Homo sapiens: one gene and its partner. The protein of the gene in region 1 purifies or fractionates together with the protein of each later gene. This does not show direct contact. Each region holds a gene or a part of one and is shown in the gene's direction. Other genes may lie near its edges. The genes, in order: STK33 and FAR1.

Region 1 (4,185 bases):
GCAGGGGAACTGCCCTTTATAAAACCATCAGATTTCGTGAGACTTATTCATTGTCATGAGAACAGCACAGGAAAAACCTGCCCCTGTGATTCAATTACCTCCCACTGGGTCCCTCCCACAACACGGAATTATGGGAGCTACAATTCAAGATAAGACTTGGGTGGGGACACAGCCAAACCGCATCAATGAATTAGATTGAACCATAGGAAATTGCCATTATTAGACTGTTTTTGACCTGCAACCAATGGAAATGACAGTGGAATGACAACCACATCCATTTGGTTCCACCTAATATTTGCTTGAAGATGCATAAAATCTCTCTGAAATTGTACACTATAAATTGACAATATTGGTTGTCTTTGGGGGCAGAGCTCAGTTAACTAGGGGGTAAGGAGGAGATTTTGAACATTGTGAATATTTAATCATGGGGATGTACTATCTATTTAAGAAATAAATAACTAAAATTACAAAAAAATTTGGCTGAGGAAAATCATTTTCTTATCTTACTACAAAATAAAACAGAAATATCATATTTCTACACCAAAGCAACTAAACATTGTTTAGTTTTCTTTTTCCTTCCACTTTGCCAGAAGACTTTAATAATGATCTCAAGATATTGTATCCAAGAAGAAAATACCAGCATCTGTAGCGTTTTTGGGAAAAAGAAAAATATTCTACATCAATAATTCTGTTCACAGAGACTGTTTCTGAGTATTTCTTCCTGGTGACTGCAACTCCTGAAACTACTATAATGACTCAATTACATTAACAAATGAAGCAGTAAAGAAGAATGGAACCATTAAGCCAGATATGAATATAAGCACATTAAAGGAAAATGAATCTTTATTCCTGCTCGATAGAATATTAGTTGTAGTGGACATGTTGAAAACTACTTCCTCAACAACTTGGATGATAACTCAAAATCCAAGTAGAAATGTCAAAAGACAGAAGGTTACACTTAGATTCACCTTTTAATAGCATTTGTATGTAAAGGTAATTAAATTTTATGAATTGAAATTTTAAAGATAGGGTGTATATCTTAGAGACCAGCACTGTACTAAACAAAGCAACTTGTTCTCAGCCAGATGCTCTAACATCAGGGGTGTTGTATCCTCACCTTATCACTGAACATAAGGAGTTTTCGATAAAAATACAACCTATGTGAGGGAATACTAAAGAATTTTAAATATTTTCTACCTCTTAAAAGAACACACAGAAATAACCCAGAAGTTTGCTTAGGGGGGAAAAGAACTAAAGAAAATGACCTTTTTACATTTCAAATTTTATAGAAATTAAAATTTTAAGGTACAAAATGATTTTTAAGTGTTACCTGCTCAAGAATTAGCATATACTGGTTATAAAATCAGACACGAGTGATGTTCTGAAGAGGCACACTTTAAAGGCTTTCTTCAGCAAGCAAACATCAGGTGGATTTTCTTTCTTGAAATATAGGTGCCAAAAGTCTTACAGGACCCAGAGTTTTATTGCAGCCCTGGAAAGTCATGGATTCACTAGGCAAACATATATTAAGTGCTACTACTGAATATTAAACGTGGTCATTACATCACAAGAACCTGAATGATCAAAGAAACACTGCATTTATTTTGTGTTACACACCATCTTATCACACTCTTTGAAAATTGTTAACCTGATTTTTAACCCAAGTGTGCTGTGACTTTCAGGTAACCAGAGTATTAAACCTGTGAGCTCTTTCCTCGATCATTCTCTGTAAACCAGAGCTTCCCTATCTCTACCCCAGTGGCTGGGCCCCTGTGCTGCTTTGTGGGTCTCCTGAGACAATCTCTACTCTTTTAGAACTCTATGCTCCAGCTTCACTTAATTAAAAGTGATCACTTTAAAAATGGGCCTAACGTCAAAACAGACCCTGCTTCCCTCATGACAGCAGGATTCAAGACCACTTCTTCCTTTACTGTGGAATGAGGCGACCTGAGAAAATACAATTGCCTGTTAAAACTCCATCTGCTTGTTTTCTACTTTAAAGCTCACATAGTACTTTCATGGCCACCCTTTCTCTTCATTCTTATGGTAAGCTCTTGTGGCAAATGTGCAAATATTATTTGCTTCCACTTAAGGGCAAGGAATAGAGAGGCTCAAAGAGGTCTACAGGCCTGCCTGAGTAGTGTGACTGGGATTAGAAGCCAGTCTCTGGAATTAATGTGGGAAGATAGTGGGGATGTGAGTGTGGGCCTTATGTAGCACTTCATACACAGATTAGAAAGAATAATTATATTGTACTTATCAGGGTATCCATACAAATGTCAGAGCTTGTGTAGAAATCTGTAAAGATGAAGTGAGTACAATTATGTCTAAGCGGACTTCCCTGCACAAATGTTACCAGACATTTACTTACATTTTGGACGACAGAGGTTTCGAAATTGAGCCTGTAGAGTTTGCTCCACACCAAACATGAAACAATTCAGTTTTCTTAAAGGTGCAAAAGGATCTTTTGGCATTTAATAATAATTTTACAATATGACTAGTTTGGACCCTATATCTAGAGAGGGCTCCAACTTGCAAATCCTGGACAACTTTGTAGTTCCTTGCATCTTTGAATTGATGTGCATTGCTTTGTGTCTGAAAATTAATCAAGACCTTTTATTTGCAGTCTACTGCTTATGAAAAGCAATTTCCTGCAACCAGTAAGGACAACTTTGATATGTGCAGTTCAAGTTTCACATCTAGCAAACTCCTTCCAGCTGAAATCAAGGGAGAAATGGAGAAAACCCCTGTGACTCCAAGCCAAGGAACAGCAACCAAGTACCCTGCTAAATCCGGCGCCCTGTCCAGAACCAAAAAGAAACTCTAAGGTTCCCTCCAGTGTTGGACAGTACAAAAACAAAGCTGCTCTTGTTAGCACTTTGATGAGGGGGTAGGAGGGGAAGAAGACAGCCCTATGCTGAGCTTGTAGCCTTTTAGCTCCACAGAGCCCCGCCATGTGTTTGCACCAGCTTAAAATTGAAGCTGCTTATCTCCAAAGCAGCATAAGCTGCACATGGCATTAAAGGACAGCCACCAGTAGGCTTGGCAGTGGGCTGCAGTGGAAATCAACTCAAGATGTACACGAAGGTTTTTTAGGGGGGCAGATACCTTCAATTTAAGGCTGTGGGCACACTTGCTCATTTTTACTTCAAATTCTTATGTTTAGGCACAGCTATTTATAGGGGAAAACAAGAGGCCAAATATAGTAATGGAGGTGCCAAATAATTATGTGCACTTTGCACTAGAAGACTTTGTTAGAAAATTACTAATAAACTTGCCATACGTATTACAGCAGAAGTGCTTCAGTCATTCACATGTGTTCGTGAGATTTTAGGTTGCTATAGATTGTTTAAGACAGCTTATTTTAAATGTAGAAAAATAGGAGATTTTGTAACTGCTTGCCATTAACTTGCTGCTAAATTCCCAATGTATTGATTAAATCAATAAAAAACAGATGTTACTCAGCACATTAATTTTTATGTTAACAAGAGGTGAATATAATAAGGTCCTCTAAGCCTTTATGCAAATTATAAGTTTGTTCTACTGCTGCAATGGTAGGCACACATCTTTGGGGAAGATCATGAAGCAAGAAACAGGGGACCATACCTCATTTCTCTTAGCTTTATAGACATCTCCTTTCCACCTGGGTAACTAATTTTGCCAGTTGAAGTCAAACTGGTTGAATAGCTACTTTCCTTTGCTTCCAAAGCAAATTCTAAAGAAAGAATTTGCAATTGCTTTTACCTTCATAAAGTCATAACCTAGTTCCATTCCAACCCCCCATGGAACTGTCAGGTCTCCAAAATGGCCCACATCTGGCCAGCTGAGCATATACTAGTTGCATTTAAATCCACTTGGTAACTAAAAATAGTACGTGTGCTTCTTGCAGTTAGTTTAGAAGACACTATTGTGATTCCGAATGAGTCAAAGATAGCACTGGCCTGTGTTGCCCCACGTGGTTCTGCCAGTATTTTCTTAGTACCTTCAGTGTGCTTTCCTTGGGGGAACCTGCTGGCCAAGGCATATCTAGTGGAAATTGTCTGTATTTTATTTTAAACTGTCATTAACATAGCTGCTTCAAGATCTTTCTCCCTTCTTGATGTCTAGTTCCAGTCGTATCATAAGCCCATAAACCATATCCTGAGCTTTAAGCTTTCTCTCAGGGTTTAGTAAGCCAGTCTTTAA
Region 2 (3,826 bases), 5.3 Mb from region 1:
CCATACCTCCATCCACTTCCTTCTTTATTTTGAAGCAAATCCCTAGACTTTTTTTTTTTTTTTAACCAGTTGTTACCATGCAGTGTGATAAGTATAATAATAGACATGTTAATCCAAGTGAGGTGCAAATTTGTTCATATAAATATATTTTGAGACTTGAGCATTATACTGTTCTGGGCACGAGAAATTAGATATAGTAAGCTACTGTAGGGCAGGGATAATATAATTGAAGAGACTGTACATATGTGAAACAGAATGTAGCAACACTGGATCATGTGCCAAAATTGGTGGTAGAGACTCTTAAGTGGGAACTGACATTATTTTAGAATGAAAGTAGAACTTAAACAAGTGGCGATAGAGAGAAAGAACATTCAGGGATAAGGTGAGGGTAATCACATGGATAAAGCGTGCGGTTAGGAAATCTAATTTTGGCGCTATAGAATAAGTTATATCTAAATCTGTATCTCTCTATCTTTATCTTTTAGACTACTACAACATGTAATTGGCATACTGTAGATGTTATATCAGAACTTGAACAAAGCCGGTTGCTGTAGCAGAAATTAGGACACACTACTTTGTGAATATATCACTGTTCGTGGTTAATTTTTTGGCACGTTCTGTTAAAAAGCCTTCTAAATATCTTAATACCACATGTATTAATGGATCCATTCTTGTTAGAATGTTTGTGGGTTTGTGCCATCAGCTTTGGTGTGCAGTTGTGTGTGTGTGTTTAACTTAAATGTTAACTATTTGACAATTTTAAGATTATTTTGAAATATCTAGTTTAGATCATTCTTGTCTTACATGAAATTTTTTCCAGAAATGTTGGCATAATTCATGAGAAATCCTTGAATTTAGGGAATTGTTACCATTATAGCTTATTTTGAAGTATTCTGAGAATAAAATCTTAAAGTATATTCCCTAATGCAGAAATTGCTTGTCAAAGGTCATGAACTTCTCTGAGCATCTCCTCAAAGTGTTGTGCTATCTCATCAGAAAAATGTACGTTCAAATATCCTTGGGGGGTCTGTGGATTCTGTCTTAATAATTTATTCTTTAATGTGTAGGCAGAAAGCATACTGCTAAAATTCAACTCAATTATCTTTCTGTGTGTTCTGCTTGCCTTTTACAAACAAGTGTTTTTAATTATTAAGAGTGATAAAATGATAAAGCTTATTATTGCAAATGCCTAATTAAAAAATTAGACATTCTTAATTGAATTCTTGGGGAAAAACAAGCTGTAGCCAGTTTAATAAATAGGAATTATTTCACTAAAGATTTTGGAATAAGCATGTGGTACTTTATTTATGGCTCCTGTCCATCCTGGATTAACAGGAAGTAGAATATATGACATATGAATGAATAAATGCATAAATACCTTTTTTTCCCCCAGAAGTAAAAACTTTGACTTACTGTGTCCTTAGGCAGTTAAGATCTGTGGAGGAAAGGATCTGCTAAAGTATTTTGAGGTTCACATCTGTGTTGAAACAACCAGAAGTAATGCAGGAGCTTAGAAACTGTTTTTGGCTGACAAAGGATTGATTCTCAGTGGAGCCCTGAGATACAAGTGCTCATAGTTCACTTAGTTTGAGGAATGGCCCTAAATGAGTTTCTTAGAAATAGGTGGTTTTAAAAACTTGTGGATTGTAATTAAAATGTAATTATGATAATGATTATGAGCATAAGCAGAATTCTCAGGAGATAGGAACAGGTGAATTAGCTGGTAATGGGACATTTGACCCCACAGAGCTGTGCACAGACTGTTCGAAGTTCAGTGAATATTAGGTGAATTGCTTTAAAGTGATACCCTTGTGACCTGTTGGAGTTAATAATTTTTCAAGTACCTAATCTACTAGTAGGAAACAACTTATTCCAATACATAGTAGTAAAAATACAGACTGTGAAAGCCAGAAGAGATTTTAACAATCAGTGATCTGGCCTCTCCTTCAATAAATTTAAAGAGTGATCAGAGAGGTTGACTTGCCTAAGGTCTGTTGGTTATGGCAATCCCAACAGCGTTGTTTCTCATTACCTGATTTTTGGTAAGTCTATTGTGCTTATTTATTTTGTTTGTCTTTTCATTCTGGATCTCAGTATTTGGAGAAGGAAGTATATTAACTTTAGCATGGTAACTAGATTATTGGTAAATTGGCTAAGAATTCCCTGAAATGTTATACCATAATGTTTTTACTTTGCCATCATATACTCCTTCCATCTTTAACATAATAACCCATAGTTACAAGATTTATTAGGGTAGGCGTGTTTTAGGAGCTTAATTCCATTCCACAGTTGGAAACAGATATTAAGAATCCACAGTTCTTAAAACATTTTCCTCATGCTTTTTTATACCTTTCTAGGATGATCTTTGCCTAACAGCATTTAGTTGCAAGCTGTGTCTATGAACTTGGCAAAGTTTTAAAAATAAACTAGGAAAAGATTTTTGAGAAGAGAGTTTGTTATGGGATTTAGTCATTTAAATACATTCCTAAAAGCTGTTTTTTCCCCACTCAAAACTAGACACTGGAAGGATCATTGACATCCAGGTTCAAAGAAGTTACTGCTTACATGACTGATCCCGATTCTGAGTTCTTTTGCCACATTTGGTTCATGTGGAAAGGCTGGCTGGGGCTAAGACTTGCCCGTACATTAGCGACATCATAGCCAGAGTGAGGACCCTTAGAACAGTGCCTGTCAAGCTTTTTTAGTCCTAGCCTTTTGGCTGAGTCATTCTTTAGCTCAATAATTTCTACTTTCTAATGGAATAATAACACTTGTCAAGGTATAAGCATTTTTTGGGAAGAGCTATATGGATGGTTCCTAATTGAATCACAAAAAATATGCTTGTCATAAAGTCTAGACTAATTAGAAAACTGCAGGCCTCAAATCCTAGTGATGGAATTGTATCAATATATTCTCTACAGTTATAATAAAATAACCAAAAACTAAATTGATAACGATGAGCCAAACCTAATGGTAATTTAATTAAAAGGCAAGAATAATGACAATTGAAAACGAAGACCAACTAAAGACAACACAGTTTCACTGATGGCAAGTGCCCCTCTTGAAAGTTACGGACTTCTACGTTTTGAGTATGCATATGTGGTAGGAGCTTGCAGCATTGCCAGTTGCAGCAACTGGATATACTAGTGGAATACAAATTGAAGTTTTTGGTACATTCTAGTAAAGTCTTCATTTTTGCAACTCTTGGTAACTAGCTTAATAGTTTATTCATAAGTAGCTTTATGGATTAAAGGAAGGTCATGTTTTCTTTTTTTTTGAGACTGAGTCTCGCTGTGTCGCCCAGGAGGGAGTGCAGTGGTGCGATCTCCGCTCACTGCAAGCTCCGCCTCCTGGGTTCATGCCATTCTCCTGCCTCAGCCTCCTGAGTAGCTGGGACTACAGATGCCTGCCACCATGCCCAGCTAATTTTTTGTATTTTTAGTAGAGACGGGGTTTCACCGTGTTAGCCAGGACGGTCTCGATCTCCTGACCTTGTGATCCACCCGCCTCGGCCTCCCAAAGTGCTGGGGTTACAGGCATGGCCACGAAGGTCATGCTTTCTAAATCATTTATAGTCCATCAGGAGGCTTGGCCCTTTCTTGGAAAATCATTACTTTTGAAGGCTGGTTTAGTAATCCTTGAGCTTCTCATGAGCATTATTTCCCTAGCTGTGTTGGGACATTTATGAAGAGCAGGGCTTAGATAGAATTTAGTGGGTCTTTTTTTTGTTTTTTACCTCAGGACATTTGTAATCTTTGATATGCTAATATACATCTTTAATCTGGTTGGGATAAAGCATATAGTTTCCTAGCACCATTTACCACAA

The links.
Region 2: the proteins of STK33 (region 1) and FAR1 purify together in Homo sapiens (affinity purification with mass spectrometry; one large-scale study listed by BioGRID and IntAct). This does not show direct contact.

What each region holds. Positions count from the first base shown.
Region 1 is NC_000011.10:8,391,152-8,395,336, reverse strand, and holds the end of STK33 (serine/threonine-protein kinase 33), read left to right. Parts: intron 1-2,626; coding exon 2,627-2,827; 3' UTR 2,828-3,467; downstream 3,468-4,185. UniProt on the Homo sapiens protein: Serine/threonine protein kinase required for spermatid differentiation and male fertility. Promotes sperm flagella assembly during spermatogenesis by mediating phosphorylation of fibrous sheath proteins AKAP3 and AKAP4.
Region 2 is NC_000011.10:13,675,006-13,678,831, forward strand, and holds part of FAR1 (fatty acyl-CoA reductase 1), read left to right. Parts: intron 1-3,826. UniProt on the Homo sapiens protein: Catalyzes the reduction of saturated and unsaturated C16 or C18 fatty acyl-CoA to fatty alcohols. It plays an essential role in the production of ether lipids/plasmalogens which synthesis requires fatty alcohols.